Linked DNA regions of Homo sapiens. The protein of the gene in region 1 interacts with the protein of each later gene in a biochemical or structural test. Each region holds a gene or a part of one and is shown in the gene's direction. Other genes may lie near its edges.

Region 1 (3,500 bases):
TTACGCGGTGGCTCACGCCTGTAATCCCAGCACTTTGGGGAGCCGAGGTGAGTGAATCACTTGAGGCCAGGAGTTCAAGACTAGCCTGGCCAACATGGTGAAACCCCGTCTCTACTAAAAATAAAAAATTAGCCATGTGTGGCGGCGGGTGCCTGTAATCCCAGGTACTCGGGAGGCTGAGGCAGGAGAATCACTTGAACCTGGGAGGCGGAGGTTGCAATGAGCCAAGATTGCACCACTGCACTCCAGCCTGGATGACAGAGTGAGACCCTGCCTCAAAAAAAAAAAAAAAAAAAAAAAAAAAAAATATATATATATATATATATATATATATACACACACACACACACACACACATACATAAACAATTGAGGATTATTTTAATTTTTGAAAATTTTTAAAAATAATTTTAGCTTTTCTCTTTTTTCCCTAAATGTCTCCTTATTTAATGGAACATTTATTTTATAGTACAGTTAGTCTTAAGGTCCTGAGTCTTGTGATATAACCAGAAATTTCCCTGGCTTCTCTACTAGTATACATCATCATCCTTCATTTGTAACTTTTTGCTGTGTTTTCTCATCACACTATTCCCTCATGAAGAAGTTACGAAGGTAACATTTTAAACAATCTGCTTTCTTTCCAGGAAAGCCTTAAATAACCGCCCCCCCTCGCCCACCGCCTGCAAGAAAAGAAAGAGGTATATTTATTACTGGCCTCAGTTTTGAAAACATACAAAATTAGAATGTTATTTTAGATTTTAAAAGTACTAAATTTGGCTTTGATAATTATCCTTAGCTAGAAGTGAATTGGCTGCATACAAGTAGTAACAGCTCTTCTTTTCTACATAATTCTTCGACTTGGAAATACCATTGTTGTTTAGATTTTGCCTTTCATTTATTTACTATTTTCCTTTTTACTTTTTTTCTTGTTAAATTACCAACTTGAACAAAATTTACAGACCAGTTATAGTCTGTGTATTGTTAAAACTAATATTAGAGACATGCTTATGTGTACCTGGCCAAGATGTAGGTATATCAGAAATTCTTGCCCGGAAATATATTTTCCTGTTTGCTGAGAAGTTGATGAGCCTTCAGTTTTATAAAAGGCAAATAAACGAAAAGGCAAAACCAGCTCTCCAAGAGAATGTCAGAATAGGACTGAAGATTAGGTGATATAAATACTCTTTTGAGACGTTTACACATTACCTAGGAAACAGTCACTGACTGTATAAAAAGAGGATATAGAACTAAAAGCTATTTGGTTTGTTTTAGCTTTGAATAGGAATGATTAATTTCCTGCTGACCTTATGCACTGGAATTTTTGCTTTTGGGCTTGTCTTCATGTGTTTATAATGGTTAATATAAATTTTAGGAAATAGAATAAAAAATAAAGCAGCTCATTAAGAGCTATGGCCATGGTGAGTACTTAACATATTGGTGAGATACTGTACAAAATAAGCAGATGGCTGGATGCAATGGCTAATTCCTGTAATCCTAACACTTGGGAGGCCAAGGTAAGAGGATTGCTTGGGCCCAGGAGTTCAAGACCAGCCTGGGCAACATGGTGAGACACCATCTCTACAAAAAATTTAAAACAAAAAAATTAGCTGGACATGGTGGCACATGCCTGTAGTCCTAGCTACTCAGGAGGCTGAGTCAAGAGGATGGCTTAAGCCTCGGAGGTCGAGGCTTCAGTGAACCAGGATTGTGTCACTGCACTCCAGCCTGAACAACAGAGCAAGGCCTCAAAAAATAATAAATAATAGCACATAACAATTAACCACCTTTTGAATTGCTCTAATTTTATTTTTGAGGATAGTTAACAAATATTTAGCTTTCATTTGGCTCAGGAAGAATAAAAGACAATAAATCCTTAGGTGTAAATGAATAGAAGAGGTCAAACTTTGTGATTTATTTAAATAGTAGTAGTTACAAAAGGCCAGTTACATAACTATCTCTAAAAATATTAAATTGATTCCCAACTGTACTTATTTTTTTCTTATCTCTCAAACTATCAATAGATTCATTTAATCAATATTTAATGTGATTGAGGACACCCATTATGTGCTTAGGATTATGCTAAATATTAATACTAAGGTAAATATAAAATAGTATAGTATATGGTCCCTGCCTTCAAGAAACTTGCATTCTAGCTGGAGAGACAAAAAGATACATACTTTTTAAAAGTTAAGTAACCCGAAGGTCCATCAACAGCAGAATGGATAAAAATGAATCATCAAAAAAAAAAAAGAGTCATCCATTTGTTTAAATGAGTATAAATATGTTTTCTATACAGAATGAAAATGAACATTGTTATACAACATGTATATTTCTCACATTATGTTCAATAAAAAAAGCCAAACACAAAAATATACATACTGTATGATTCCATTTATATGAAACTCAAAAAACTATTGTATTTGAGGTTGCATATTTAGGTGGTACAATTATAAACAAAATCAAGCCAGGAATTACTATAGTTTTTAGAATAGTGATTATCTTTTTGTAAGGGATAGGGGAAGGAAAAGGGTGTTAGTAATTAGGAAGGAAAATGGAGAGGATTTCTAGATAGTAACAATTTTCTGTTTCTGGACCTAGAGGAAGTTTCATAGTTTTGTTTTTGTTTTTGTTTTTGTTTTTAAGACAGAGTCTTGCTCTGTCACCCAGGTTGGAGTATAGTGGCACCATCTTGGCTCACTGCAACCTGCGCCTCCCGAGTTCAAGCAATTCTCCTGTCTCAATCTCCTGAGTAGCTGGGATTACAGGCACCCGCCACCATGCCTGGCTAATTTTTGTATTTTTAGTAGAGATGGGGTTTCACCATATTGGTCAGGCTGGTCTTGAACTCCTGACCTCTCAGGCGACCCACCCAACTTGGCCTCCCAAAGTGCTGGGATTATAGGTGTGGCCTCCCAAAGTGCTGGGATTACAGGCGTAAACTACTGCTCCCGGCCTTTTTTATTTATTTATTTATTTTTGATACGGAGTCTTGCTCTGTCCCTCCTGGCTAATTTTTGTATTCTTAGTAGGGAAGGGTTTTCAGCATGTTAGCCAGGCTAGTCTTGAACTCCTGATCTCAAGTGATCCACCTGCCTTGGCCTCCCAAAGTGCTGGGATTACAAGCGTGAGCCACTGCACCTGGGCCATAGATCTTCACTTTGGAATAATTAAGCTTTTTACTTTGTTTTGTTTATTCTTCTGTGTGTACATTATATTTCACAATGCAAAATATTTTTTTTAAAGTAAACAACAATAAAAAGCAAGTTTTTGCATGTTAGAATGAGCCAAGGGAGTTAGAGAGAGGAGAAACCATCATGAGATAGAGTAATCCGGGGAAGAATAGAAAAAGGCAGTAAAACAAGCCATGCCTTTAAAAATGGGAGGATTAACATGAATGGAGAAAAGGAAACACGTTCTGGATGAGGGAACCTGAGTGAGCAAAGGTATCATGAGCTTGATGAGTTTGGGAGATAACTGTGAGTAGGCCAGTATGACTGAAGT
Region 2 (3,500 bases), on another chromosome or scaffold:
TTTTATAATTTTTTTTCTTAAAAGACGGGATCTTACTATTTTGCACAGGCTGGCCAAATCTGCCCTCAGGTGATCCTTCGACCTCAGCCTCCCAAAGCTCTGGGATTACAGACATGAGCCCCTATGCCTAGCCAGATTTTCCATTTTAAAGTGTGGCATTTAGCACGTTCATGATGTTATGAACCGTCACGTTTCTAAAACATTTTCATCACCCCAAAAGGAAACCCCATATTCATTAAGCAGTTGTTCATTCCCTTCTCCCTGCCAATCCTCGGCAACCACTGATCTGCTTTCTGCCCCCATAAATTTATCTATTCTGGATTTTCCTAAAAATTGAATAATTCAATATGTGTTCTTTTGTGTCTGGCTTCTTTCACTTAGCATGTTTTAGAGGTTCGTCCTCTAAATCAGCAGGTATCAGTACTTCATTCCTTTTTAAGGGTGAGTAATATTCCATTCTATATTCCATTCATATACACCACATTACATATATATCATTTCGTTGATACGTACTGCATTTTGTTTATTCATTTGTTAAATTTTTGTGTGCTATTCAGAAAGTTATATGAACATCTCTAAATTGATTTTCGTCATAATCTCTACAAGGCTTGCTAAGGTAGTGTTATGGTGTCAGGTGTGCTACCTAACATATCATTCATTACTTGCAGTTAAGTGATTGTTAAATGAGTTTTGAAAGACGCAAGGTCAACAAAAATGGATTTTTAAGTTGGTTCAGTTGATACGTGGTGTGGTTTGGTTCTGCGTCCCCACTCAAATCTCATCTCAAATTGTAATCCCTGTGTGTCGAGGGAGGGAAGTGATTGCATCATGAGGGCGGCTTCCCCCATGTTGTTCTCGTGACAGTGAGTTCTTACAAGATCTGATGGTTTTACAAATGGAAGTTTTTCCTGCACTCTCTCTCTTCTCTCTCCTGCTGCCTTGTGAAAAAGGTGTCTGTTTCCCCTTAGCCTTCCTCCATGATTGTAAGTTTCCTGACACCTCCCCAGCCATGTGGGACTGTGAGTCAGTTAAACTTCTTTCCTTTATAGGTTACCCAGTCTTGGGTATTTCTTTATAACAGTGCAAAAACGGACTAATACAATACGTTTTCACAAAATTTTACAATAGAAGCATCTTTAGAGTTTATTTGAACAAACAATTCATGAATTGAGCAGCTCCAAACCAGATCTGGGAGCTCCACCAGGGGAATCCAGGAGGGAGGCTTTTATAGGAGGGTCACAGATGTAAAGCAAAGAAAATATTTGATTGGCTGCAGTTATACAGTTGTTTTATTTGGTCTGTCGTGTTGGAAGGTCCCCTAGATATGTAATTAGAAGTTTGTTGGATGTTTCTGATTGATTAAGCTTAAGTTCTCTTTTTCTTTAGCATAGGCATTTATAAGAAGTAACTTCATATTTTGCTTATGTTTGCAAATCAAGTGAGGTTGATGTCACTTATGAGGCCTAATTGGTTTTGTCTGCTCGGGGATTCTTCAGGCATGGTTTCCATTTTAATTTACTTCAGCAGTGCTAATTCTCATTCAGTTTTTGTGGTACAAATGGTGTGCCAATACTGCATTTCATCCAGGACCCTTGGGCGATGGAACCATTCTGTTTCTCCATGTCTTCATTTGGAGGGTGTGACTGATGGAATTATGTCTACCCTGGTGCACTTAAATTCTGCAGACTACTTCAAAACAGCATAAGTAGAGTGGATACCTAAGGGAATTCTTAAACACGTAGAACAGGAACCTATAACTTCTCATCTAGTACAATGTGAGATAGTTACATGAGATGAAGATAGCAGTTCTACTGTATGTAAATGTGTACCTTTCTCTAATCTCATTTTAGCAGTTTATGAGTGGGACACTTCATTACCCCATTTATGTTCAACCTCTAACAGTTAATATATTTCATTTTATTGTTGTCATTGTTTCTAAGAATAGCTATTTCTTTCTGTCCATCCATTCATTCATCTATCCATCTCTCCCTGGATGGTGTACTATAGGATTAAGGTAGCTTAGATCACAAGTGTTTAAACAATTGTAGAACTCATAGCAGGCAAAACTGAATGTCATTTTGTAGAGTTCTGTCTTGTTTTCTGTTTTGGGTATGTTTGTGGTCTTGGTTGCAGAAATCCAGTCACCATTTCATTTCGTTAAGTGGATTATAACTTTTTAAGCAAAATTCTGCTTTGGTAGATAATAAAAACTGCAAGAAAACATTTGAGTAATATTAAATCTAGTACTCTGGTTTAACCCCTGCAAACAGGAGTTCTTGATTATTTATTCCTCACCACATTTTCTCTGGATTTATCTGTTGCCCACCAAAACTGAAGACCCATTCTGGTGGCAGGTTGACTGTTCCAGAAAGAATGAAAAATCTTGTCATGTGAATTTTACTTTTGAACTTTTTTGGTTTAGATCTGCCTTACCTTCCCCCCCCCCCCCCCCCCCGCCCCACACAGCCTTTCCTGTGTGTGTGGATTGGTGTGCTGTAGATCTGAAGCTCTCAGATCTGAGCACGAATGACAGTCATCTGGGGAGCTTATTAAACATGCAAGAGCTTTAATCCCACTCCTAGGGATTCTGATTCTCCAGGTATGCAGTTGGCTCAGGAGTTTGCATTTTAAAAAACACACTAGTAATTCTGGTGTGCATGCTATAGGTAACCCTGTAGTAAGAGGTTCAAAGAACATATGATGTTTCATTGAATCTATGACGCCACAGATGGTAAGGGTCAGAATCTGGTAGCTTTCAGCTGCATGACTCCTAAGCCCTAATTTCCAATCTTGTGGCTAATTTGTTAGTCCTACAAAGGCAGTCTAGTCCCCAGGCAAGAAGGAGGTTTGTTTTGGGAAAGGGCTGTTACCATCTTTGTTTTAAACTATAAACTAAGTTCCTCCCAAAGTTATGGCCTATGCCCAGGAATGAACAAGGACAACCTGGAGGTTAGAAGCAAGATGGAGTTGGTTAGGTCAGATCTTTTTCACCATTTCAGTTATAATTTTGCAATGGTGGTTTCACTACTAAGAAATAAAAATGTGGTTGTAAGCCTTATCCTGAGTTTAGTTAAAATGAGGGAAGCAAGATGCAAAATGAGTTTAGTTAAAATAAATAGGGTATTAAGTGCCTGGCAACCAGAGGTTCCTCTTATTATCTTAACAGGTTATTATGAAGCATAGCAGATATGAGATTTTAAAAAATTACAAAGCAACAGTTCTTCAGATCTTTTACCATATAAATTATTTGATTGCAATGAGGAGTTTATATAAGGTGTCCTTAGTTGACATCTATTTGTAATGAAAATTGTACTGATGACTTTGTTTTAAAATGCAACTTAGGTGTATATGGGGGTGTAATAGACTCCAGTTTGGCCCCATATTAATTTCATCCTACTCATTTCCAGTCATTTAGATGTTGCTGGCTCAGTTCAGAAGTCTGATTTCTATCCTCCTTGTACTTCAGTGATTCCTGTTTTGTAATTATAGTCCACTGAAAT

Evidence for each region. Proteins that work in one complex are often made in the same cells at the same time.
Region 2: the proteins of GOLPH3L (region 1) and FAM3C form a complex in vitro, tested with the Homo sapiens proteins (one study listed by BioGRID).

Annotation. Positions count from the first base shown.
Region 1 is NC_000001.11:150,690,655-150,694,154, reverse strand, and holds part of GOLPH3L (Golgi phosphoprotein 3-like), read left to right. Parts: intron 1-3,500. UniProt on the Homo sapiens protein: Phosphatidylinositol-4-phosphate-binding protein that may antagonize the action of GOLPH3 which is required for the process of vesicle budding at the Golgi and anterograde transport to the plasma membrane.
Region 2 is NC_000007.14:121,389,809-121,393,308, reverse strand, and holds part of FAM3C (protein FAM3C precursor), read left to right. Parts: intron 1-381; exon of another isoform or gene 382-441; intron 442-1,947; exon of another isoform or gene 1,948-3,500. UniProt on the Homo sapiens protein: May be involved in retinal laminar formation. Promotes epithelial to mesenchymal transition.